Regions from separate parts of the Homo sapiens genome. Here region 2 is linked to region 1. Evidence: fine-mapped expression QTL. A gene starts in region 1. The other region holds a variant in brackets. All regions are shown on one strand. Distances are from middle to middle.

Region 1 (5,379 bases):
TGAGGTAGGAAAGAATTTGAAAAACACTTGACTGAACTCTGCTATTGATCTTGGAAAAGTCAATCTTTGAAAGCCTCAGTTGTTTCATCTGTGAAATGGGGATGATAAAGATATGATTTCCTCAGACACTTTAATAGTAGATTTCAATATGCCATATAAACTATCCAGTATGATACAACACATGGTATGGTTTTTTACTTGATATTATTTGCCTAGAATCAGCCCGATTTATGCATTATGTACTATAAACATTCACCTTACAAAGACTGTCAACAGCTTGAGAGTGTAGCTTCATCAATTGTCTGTCTTAATTGGTCTGGAAGCATTTCCATTATTTCTAACTCAAGGAACCATTTCACAATTTTTAACAAGCTTTGTGTGCCTACAAGCTCAGAAAGCTTACTGTGTGCTCTCAGGACTAGAGTTCTATAAACCTCTATTTAAACAAGGAAGCCTCTTTTAAGTCTTATTTCAGTCTGGTGCCTTTGGTCGAGGTGGAAACTAAAATTGAAAACAGATAGATGTTTTACATTTAAATGGGTTTAACATAAATGTGCATTAACCCATTTCATGGGCGATTGCACAAATACCTTTTGCAAACTTGGTACACGTGAGCGCATATACAGTAACCATTAATGTCTTCTAGAGAAATAAGGTGCAGATCCAAAATTTTAAACAGCTAGCTCGAGTTCCTCTCACTCGAAAGAAAATGTAATGGCTTTAAGGGAATTGCTCTAATAATATCATGGCATCTGCAATGGCTGGCCAGAGCAGAGCAGAACAGTGTGTATGTCACCGCAAGTCAATTTAACAAGAAATAAGCTTCCCCCTGGAGAATCTAAACTCCCTTGCCTCCCACAAAGAAAATTGAATTTTGGAGGTCACACCTTGGGTAGGTTACCATAGAAAGAAGCTTAACATTCTTTTTGTCATATGCTCTGGGAGGTCAATGCTGTTCTTCCAACAAGTGACTACCAAAGACCCTCTTCCATTCCCCCCCACCCAATTCTCTCCCCCGATCCCATTATAACAAGTCTTTGGAGTCCTCTAGGAAACGGGATGTGATTGTGACACTTGAAAATGCCAAGGACCACACCGAAGGCAATCATGCTCAAACACCAAGTTTTGAGCCCCGCAGTGAGGAGCAGGGCAGATACTGGGGCGGGAGAGGGGACTGGAGGAGGGCAGCGGTAGAGATAGTGAGGATATGGTGGGGGTCAGAGCGAGTCAGACCGTCAGATAGTGAGCTTTAGGTTGTAACTGAACGCTTAGCCAAATGTGAATCAACGGAACTGCTGTTACCGGAGAGAAAAACAGGTCGCCAAGTCAAGCCCAGGCCAAATCCCAACTCTGTGGGTGGATGGTCCCTTCCCTGGGTTGTCGGGGTGGATGGCTGAAAGGCCTAGCGTGGTCTTGCAGCGGCGGGGAGGTACCTCCAGCACACTGCACCTCCCTTAGAGGCTCCGGGTGGCCGCAGCCGGGCTACCGCCACTGCCCCCCGCCCCGCAGCAACATGTGGGGTGCTGCCAGTCCGCCGCCCAGGAACTCCCTCCGGCTGGAGTTCCTGGTGGACGCATGTTGGGCCGTGAGAAGATGCTGAATTACTCCTGGGAAAGGTTCCTCCAGCCTTGAACTTGGCAGCTCCTGACCTTTCCATCCCACCCTCCACGCGCCAGCCCAACACACACGAGTACACACGCCCCTCTGGACCCGTCCAGGCTACTCGCGGGGCTCTCTGCCCACTAGGGGCAAAACGCCGGAGGCCGGGACCCCAGTTCCTCTGGCCCCAGGGGACTGCCCTAGCATCGGGTAGTTCCAGGGACTCAGCGCACTCCCTGCCTTGGCCAGGCCCCGCCTAAGCCGGGGCCGCTGGCACCAATCCCCTGTTCTTTTGTGCTCTCCCGGGAAGCCCGCCTCTACTCACCCGGGCTGCGCGCGGATTCCGGCCGCCAGCTGCAGCCCGCTGCCCCATCCCACGAACACTGCGGCGCCCCCAGAGTGTGCAATGCGGCGCCCCGCCAGCCCGCTGCCGGAGCCCGGGAGCTCAGGGAAGGAGCGAGGGAGCGCAGCGGGGAGAGGCGGGGGGCGGCTAGGGGCGCGCGCGCCACTCCCACTCGCGCCGGGCACTGGCCGCCGCCCGCAGCCGCGGCCGGCCCGGCCTCGAGGGCCGCGGGACCAATCAGCGCGCGCGGGGGGAGCGGAGCCCTCCGCGGGGCGCGCTCATTGGCCCGGCGCGCGCGGCCCAACTCCGGGAGAATCGGCCTGAGCGCCAAGTCTGCAAACTCCGGCCAGCGGGAGCCGACCGCCCGGCGCAGGTGGGGCACCCGGGCGCCGCGCTCCCGCCCGCAGGGTGAGCGGAACTGGAGAGATTTGGGACCTTCCCGGGAAGCCTGTTCCCAGTGAGCGTTGGAAGCGAGCAGTGTTTGCTCAGGGTGCACCGATACCTTCCTGTGCGCGACCCCCTGGCGCCTCTCCCTAGCCGCCAGCCTCAGCCGGGCCAGCAGCTGCGTGCGTGGCTGCAGGCCCGGCAGTGTGAAATGACCCTGGCCAAATCTCACTCCCCGCCATCCCCTGGGCCCCGCGAAATCCGCCGGACCGCAGAGCTCAAGAGCAAGTGAAGCTCCGAACCCAGGGAAGGCGGAGACCACTTGACGTTTGCAGTAAAAGACCTAAGCTGCGGGGCGGAGCATGGAGGCGGTGGGAAGAGCCAGGAAGGCAGGTCTTAGGAAGTGGGAATCCGGTTATGGGTTTGGTGCAAAAAAGTCCAGGGCATAATACTGCCACCCTCTGCCCAACCCTTCCTCCAGTTAAAGCCCCTGCAGCCCTCTTGGGACGTATTGGTTTTTCTCTTCCTTGTTGTAAATCGTGTTTGACCCCCCTGGACGGTTCGATCTAGAGCCTTAGAGTGGAAGTGGGTCATAGTCCTACTCTCCCCTGAGCAGCGCGGGGGGCCGGCGGGGAGCCGGGGTGACCGGGGAAGGTCCCCAGGAAGGTCTGGAAGGACTCCACGGATATGCCCGGAAACTCGGAACCAGCCTCCCCACCTCCCCCCGAACTTGGCCTGCAAGGCTACCTTCGTAAGGGCGGCCCGCCATGTGGCTATTTGTCGATCTTTGAGACCCCTCCACCTTCTCCTTGGATTTTCTACCCCTGGAGCATTTTTTCAGGCCTCTCCTGAATCACCCTGCCTTCCCAATAATCTATCCATCCCAACATAAAAACATTCTTACTCTTTTTTAAATTAAACTTCCTTCCCCAGTCCCTCTATTTGGAAGGGCCTAGGATAACCTATTTTTGATCGACAGCTGCTAGACCTCAGAAAGTTTTTCTCTTAGTGTATGTGCACAGGCTTGCCCAAGCTCAGGGTTCAAGTAGGCAAAAAATAATTAGCGCCCCCTCAAGGTGGAGATCGCTGCCGCGCTGTCTTCCTGCAGGGCTCAGCAGGGTGAATGAATTGAATATGAATTAATCAACCTGAACTTGGAAATGTCTCTCCGTGTCTAGGCAGGTTACCTCTGCGGGTTAGCATCTACTAATGAGGGCATGTCCCGGGTGTCACTGCTGACACTCATTTAGTTTCCAGTTGGCAGTTCCGGTCCATGTACTTATTCACTTTATTTAAAAAAAATCGGTGCATAGTTTAGTGAAAATATTCATATTTGGGTTCAAAGTGAAGTTCAACGTATTAATGCAGTTTATGAGAGCCGAGTTCCTGGTAGAGATGGAACCCTTAGGATCTCTTTTCAGAAATATATTTTCAAAGAAGGCTGGAAAGATATGCATATGAAATGTCTGCAGTGGTTATCTCTGCGTGTTGGGATAATGGATGGTTTTCTTGTTCTTTATACTTTACGGTATTTTCTAAAGAACATTAATATTAATTTAAAAATTTTTTTAAAATGTTGACTACCAACATACAACACTCCTCAGGCATCAGAAGAGCGAAAATGTTAAATCTTCCTTCTGCTTTTCCCTTCACATCTTGTCAATCGCCCAGTCCTGTGTTTCTGTCTCCTAGGATGACTTCTAGATCCATCCCTCCCAGCATCTCTATTTCACTGCCAGACCTCATCATGCCTTACCAGCGCTTCAGCAACAGGCTTTCACTGCTCTGCTCTCCAGTCGACCACACGCTGCCCTCTCTATTTCAGAATCACTAATGTAATCATGTCACTTTCAAGCTTAAAATTCTTCAGTTCCAACCCCACTGTGAGGAAGTTCAAATGGAGCCTGGTTGGCAAGGCGTTTCCTTCCCAGTCCGTTCCCAGCTTTCCACGTTGGTCTCATCTTCTGTCCTCACAGTTCCGCAGGCAGGATGGTTCTGCTCCACCTACAACTGCCTGTCCGTGGACCTTCACACACCCATGTCTAAGATTTCATAGTGCTAGAATGCTGTGCTTCTCTTCCTTCTCAACTCTCTCCTGCCCCAACAGCAAGTTCCTATCTTTGCTTCAAGATTCACTTCGAATACCACCTTTTTAAAAATCAAGTCTTCGAAACTGCCCGGGGCAGAATTAAGCAACGCCTTCTTTCTGTACATCAGAAGCAAGCTTTTTTTTTTTTTTTTTTTTTTTTTTTTGACGGAGTCTCACTCTGCTGCCCAGGCTGGAGCAAAGTGACGCGATGAAGAAAACATACATTGTATTTACACTCCTGGAGTGCACGAAGAGAGAGACGCACTTTATTTATTTATTTATTTTAAGCCCTCTCCTTCTCACCCCTGCCCAACATGGCTGAGTGCCATCCTCTGTTTCACCCCTGCTGAGTCTGCCAGCTCACATTTACCATAGGTGGTCTCACCCTGCACCTTCCCAACCTGCCCAGCTCTCACTACAGATCTGTTTATTGATTATTTTTTGTTGTTATTGTTTCATGTTTTTGTTTTTGAGACAGTCTCACTCTGTCACCCAGGCTGGAGTGCAGTGGCACAATCTTGGCTCACTGCAACCTCTGCCTTCCAGGTTCCAGTGATTCTCATGTCTCAGCCTCCTGAGTTGTTGATGCCCAGCTAATTTTTTTATTTTTAGTAGAGATGGGGTTTCACCATTTTGGCCAGGCTGGTCTTGAACTCCTGACCTCAGGTAATCTGCCCATCCTGGCCTCCCAAAGTGCTAGGATTACAGGCATGAGCCACCATGCCCAGCCTTGTTTATTGATTATTTTAAAAGCAGCCCTTTCTGATTTTTTAAATTAATGTATATTTTTATTTCAATAGCTCTGGAAGTACGAGTGGTTTTTGGCATGGGTGAATTGTATAGTGGTGAAGTCAGATTGTAGTGCACCCATCACCTGAGTAGGAGAGAAAGACTTTAGATCAAATAGTCACATGAACAATTTCATACTGAGATAGGCATGATGACACTACCACATGTAAAAAAA
Region 2 (5,379 bases), 160 kb before region 1:
AAACTTAAAATGTGTGTTCTCAATGACTGAGTAATCACATTTTCAGATAATACTCCTTAAATGTGTAAACATAAGTAAATAGATAAATAGCCTAATTCAAACACTTTTACTGCAGTCCTCCTAGAAAGAAAACAAACTTGATAACAACCCATATTTTCATAGCAGTGGTACAGCCAAATTAATCCTGGTATATTTATATAATGGAGCTCAGTATATATGTAGATCTTGAAAACATCATGTTGAGAAGCATTCAATTTGAAAAATATTATGTACAGTAAATCATTTATGTAAAATTTACTTACACAAAACAATGTTGTTTATTAATATATATTTAGTAAACATATAAAACCTGACTCACAAAATTCATGACAGCATTTCACTCTGAGGAGAGAAGAATAAAAAGAAAAAACCAGGGAAAGGCTGATAGAGAACTCAATTTATTGGTAATAGTTTACTTCTTTAAAAATCAAATGAAATATGACATATTAATATTTGCTAATTCTGGATGGGAAGTACATGGGTATTTATCTTATCCTTTTTAAAAACTTTTTTATCTTTAGTTATTCGAAATAAAAAATAAATTATAACAGTTTATAAAATTTTGAAAAAACACAAAAACAGGAGCTGAGATAGGTTAACAGGATGAGAATCACCATTATAAAAAGCTCACCAGCCTGGACAACACGGCGAAACTCAGTCTTTATGAAAAAGTACACACACACACACACACACAAAAAAAAAAAAAAAAAAAAAAAAAAAAAACCCAACCAGCCATGGTGGCATGCACCTGTAATCCCAGGTGCATCTACTCGGGAGGCTGAGGTGGGAGGATTGCTTGAGCCCAGGATGTCAAGGCTGCAGTGAGCCGAGATCGCACCTCTGCACTCCAGCCTGGGTGACAGTGTAAGACCCTGTCTCAAAATAATAATGATAACAATCACCATCATCATCATCATCCCATTATCTCAGTGGTCAGGGATGCTGCCGCGAGTAAAGTACAAAGCCCTTCACCCTTTGCTTCCTACTTAGGGGCGTGCAGCCTGAGTCCCAGAATGGATTTCCTCTCCTCCCTATCACCTAGCTGGCTCCCCCTCATCCTTCATCTCTCAGTTTATAAATCATCCTCTCTAGGAAGCCTTTCCTATTTTGTAAAAGTGAGTTATACTTCCCTCCTTTGTACTTGAAAAGTTCTCTTTGTACCTCAACCTTGCAGCATTCATCACTCTAGTATAATTTCTTGTTTACTTGTTTGTCTCCCCTCTGAGATTGCTGGCTTCTGAGGGGAGGGGCTGTGTGGGATCCAGCGTTTCAGCTCCAGCTGGCATAGTTCCTAGCCCTGAGTACACGTGTCCTACATTTTTGCTGAATTTTGTAGCTTCCTGGCCCAGAGTACTGCAGAGGGCAGCATGAGGGTACTGAATGCCTGAAGATCCCAGCGGGAAAAAAGGCAAGACAAACCATCCACTGAAAACCCTTTGCTGGAGCTGGACTTGCATTTCAGAATCAACATCTAAAACTGATTTTCATGAGAAAAAAAAAAGTAGACTCATTTCATTTTTAAAAAGCAGCTGATCTTCAGTCTTGCTTTTTTTCCTTGTTTTATCTAAACACACAAGTAGGGAAAATTGGTTCAGAAATGATTCAAAATTGGATTTTTCTTTCACAGCCACCACTCAAAATCACCCACTTAAACCATTTTTCCTCATAAAAAAAAATCCAAGGCTCAGCCGTATGGAAAACATCCTAATAGACATTTTTCTGTTGTTGACATTTTTCTGTTGTTGCCATCTTGTCCAATTTTGGAAAACGTAGAAACCACATCAAACCTACCTATTTCAGTAAGGAGGAAAAGACGAGGGTGGGACGGGTGGGTAATGCGTGTTGCATAGAGTGAAACCACACCTCCCATGAACTTTGACCTTAGCCCATCCCTACTTTTAGAATCATGACTTAATATTGATGCCCCTTGGCTTCAGAGCTGTTGGTCAGAACACGTCAAAGGCAGGAGCCCCATCCCCTCTGATTTTTGAGGAGCGCAACGTTTCTGGGACTTAACCTGAATGGTGGGTAGCACAGTTGTTCCCGAGTGTTCACTGCCCCTTCCCCCACTCGGTTTGCCCCTGCCACGTGACTTGCAGAGTCCCCAGTTGGAGGAGAGGGGGAGTGTGCTGCTCTGCGCTGCCGTATTGACAGCAGCTTGGCTAAGGGACCTGCTTTGGCCAATGAAATGAGACCGGAAGCGAAAGTGTGTGTTCCTAGCAGAAGGTGTTAAGAGGCATTGTGGCTTCCCCACAGCGATCTTGCTCTCTTTGCCCTCTATCAAGAGAATGGCATGCTCCAGACAGAGGCTGCGCTTGTAGCCTGAATTCCAGAATGAAGGAGACCAATGGTGCCAACTTGCAGCTGATAGTGTGAGCAAGGAGGGAAAACAACAACAACAAAAACCCTTTCTTTTTGAAGCCACTAAGCTTTTAGTGTTGTTGGCTACCGTGGCATAACCTACTGAAAGATGACAGATAGTGAGTTTAATAATAATAATAAACTAAACTGTGCCCCACACAGAAAGCACCAGGGTGCGGCTCAGCGGCTTCTGTGGAAGGTGGGAGGGAACTGTGCCCGGAGTTGGCCTCTTTTCTTCTGCAAGCCCACGTGTAGTGAATGTTCTGTTTCTGGTACACAAGCCGACAAAAAGCCT[T/C]TTGATTTTTTTTTTTTTCATCCCAAAGACCCAGAATTTTCTGAGTCTAAGACAAGCTGCCGTGTTCCACTGAACTTCCCAGGGAGAACTTTGCTGTTTGGGCAGAGCAGATTGTTTCCTATCTTTCCAGTCTCATTGGTTGGAAGTGCTAGAATTTCCCAAATTAAAGTGTTTTTCCCCCTGTTGATTTTGCCATTAGCGACAACAGCAGCTTCTCTAGGAAGTTGGAAAACCTTTCATAAAATATTTCCAGAATGTGGGTGTAGCCTAGAGCCTGCCTGTGGTTATCTTATTTCAGAGGAGCAAGACAAGAGTTTCACAGTTGCAGAGAAAAAAACAACAGCGTTTCATGGAAACATGGTGCTCAGCAGGGGTGTTGCTCTGAAGGAAAGAAATTCGACTAGAGAAAGTGATTAAAATGCTCTATTAACACTGGAAATGTAGAATAAACTGGATATTGCATCCATTTGGTTTTAGCGCATTCAATACATGACGTTATTTCAGCTCACAAAAGAGCATTCTGTACATAAAAATAATTCCCTTTCAATACCAAATGTACACGCTGTTGAGAATTCAACATGCCATTCTTATTTGCTATTATCATAGGTCACGACAGTGCCTCTAACTTACTATGTGACCTGGGATAAGTCATATCTCCTCTTTGTGTATCCATGTTCTCCTCTATCAAATGAACTGAGGATGTTTGGTTTAATTATTTCTGAGGTCCCTTGTCACATTTTAACAATAGAAATCTTGCTGCTTCTGTGTACATTTGGTCATTTGAATCTGCTAGTTTTGAATCATCTGCTAGTTTTCATTTGAATCTGCTAGTTTCCTTGAGCCAGTTTTACTACTTCTTTATTATTACTATTTATTGATATGCGGGCTTTGAAAGTAGGTATTTTCTCTTATTTAACAGTTGCTGTTATATTGAAACCTGATATTGATTGTCCCTAAAATGATATTTCTAATTTGTAGATTTTCTTAACAAAAATTCAGAATACAGAGTTGCAGAATCTAAAAGGGATGGGGTGGGGTGGGGAGGGGATGAGGTTTTTCTTCTGCCTGAAGATGGCAAGTGAGTTAATCCATGTTTCCAAAGAAAATAATCATAAAGCTACTCTTAAGAGAATTTCAGCATCTGTCCTGCATCATAAGGCAAGAGTGTTGATTTCCAATGTGCTCCCAGAGTCTATTCTTCATAAGCCAGGACCTAAGCAACAGAAGTTGGTGGTGTGATAGCGACCTCTCTGTTGGTGAATAAAGGGAAGGAAGTAAAATCAGTCACATCAGCATCAACATAGCTGCATGTGGCAGGGCTGAGAAAGGCTCTCTAAGCTTGCAGGTCATTTGATTCATGATCTGTCACACGGTAGATGCCTCAAGCCTTCAGAAGAAGTGTGTGCTGCACATATAGTCAATGGCCAGTGTTGAATCTCTCCTGGAAGGTAAAATGACTTGTCCCATGAGCAGCCTTCCTCCCAAATAATTCCAGAATGGGCAAGGGCATTAACTCATCTTATCCAAATGTCTCCGACTTTTCTCCACTGAGTTAACATAAACATTCTTGTTAATATTTCCAAATGAGAAAAAAAGAGATCTCAAAGATAAAATATTGATGGGATACCAAGTTTAGAGAGGCTTTGCAGATACAGACATTCTCATACACTGTTGGTATAAGCTTAAATTGGCACCTCTTTCAAGAGGGTAACTTGGTAACATAGAACACAGCTATAAACGCATAAAATAATTCCATTTCTATTAGTTATCCCACAGTTACCTCTAGAGGGTGCACAGATGTTTATGGCATAATTGTTTATAATAGCAAAATCTAGACACAACTTTTAGAACACACTGAATTTGAGTAAGTAGGGGATGAGTTAAATAAATTATGGCCCATCTATACAATGGAATACATACAGCCACTTAGAAAACAAAATGAATCTACATGTGCTAGCAGCAAAAGATGTTCCATATGTACTAATTTTAAAAGGCATATTGCAGATCTTGTTTTCTACATGTATATATGAATTCATTCACATAATTATATAAATACATGCAAAATTGTATATGCATTAGAAAATATTTAAAAAGTATACTCAAGAAATTATTAATAGCAGTTATTGCTGAAGAATGGGAAGAGATGGAGTGGAAAGGGAGAATGGTTTTACTTTTCTACAGAACAATTTCAAATTTCAATGCTCATGCATTACTTTTATATAAAAAGATTTTCAAAGTAAAAAACTAGAAACACCTAAAAAATAAGAAAGAGGAAATGATGAAATAAATTATGGCGCAATCATAAAATGTAATACTAACCAACCATTAAAAATTATTTCCTACAGTTCTACTTGCTGACAGAAAAATGTGATATATTGGTAAATTTTCAAGGCAGTTTACAAAACAAAAAGAGAAAGAGGGTGAGCCTGATAAGCACCGGAGCCCCTTAGGGGTGCATTCCAAGTCATGGTCTTTGTCACACCAGTGCCAGCACAGTGCCCAGCACACCCGTCAAGAAAGGACTGCTCATTTGATGCTCGCACATGCCTGCACCTGCACATGCTATGGGCTTACATTGCTGATGGCTGACCCTCGCAACAAGCTCATTTATCCCATTTTACAAGCAGAAGATTGAAGAAGATTAGGGAGAGTGTTTTAACTAGCGAAGCTTGAATCCGAACCTA

Direction of the effects. Alleles are on the strand shown, and positions count from the first base shown. SD is a standard deviation of normalised expression in the study named.
With allele T in place of C in region 2, the expression in tibial nerve of the gene that starts at base 2,060 in region 1 is higher (moderate effect, 0.45 SD a copy in GTEx).

What was found. PIP is the estimated chance that this variant, and not a neighbour inherited with it, causes the effect.
Region 2: its variant is the best candidate, but not a certain one, in a credible set for the expression of LYPD6 in tibial nerve (GTEx, PIP 0.83).

Annotation. Positions count from the first base shown.
Region 1 is chr2:149,327,268-149,332,646 of GRCh38, reverse strand. It overlaps LYPD6 (LY6/PLAUR domain containing 6), which reads right to left and starts at 2,060. Exons shown (of 5, transcript NM_194317.5): 1 at 1,925-2,060. MIR9899 (microRNA 9899) reads left to right here and starts at 2,274; the gene lies at 2,274-2,369. RefSeq lists a silencer at 1,974-2,443.
Region 2 is chr2:149,486,493-149,491,871 of GRCh38, reverse strand. No RefSeq gene overlaps it. Among named protein-coding and RNA genes, the nearest start is that of MMADHC-DT, 98 kb to the left of the region's middle. The variant T/C (reference allele first, on the strand shown) is at 2,696.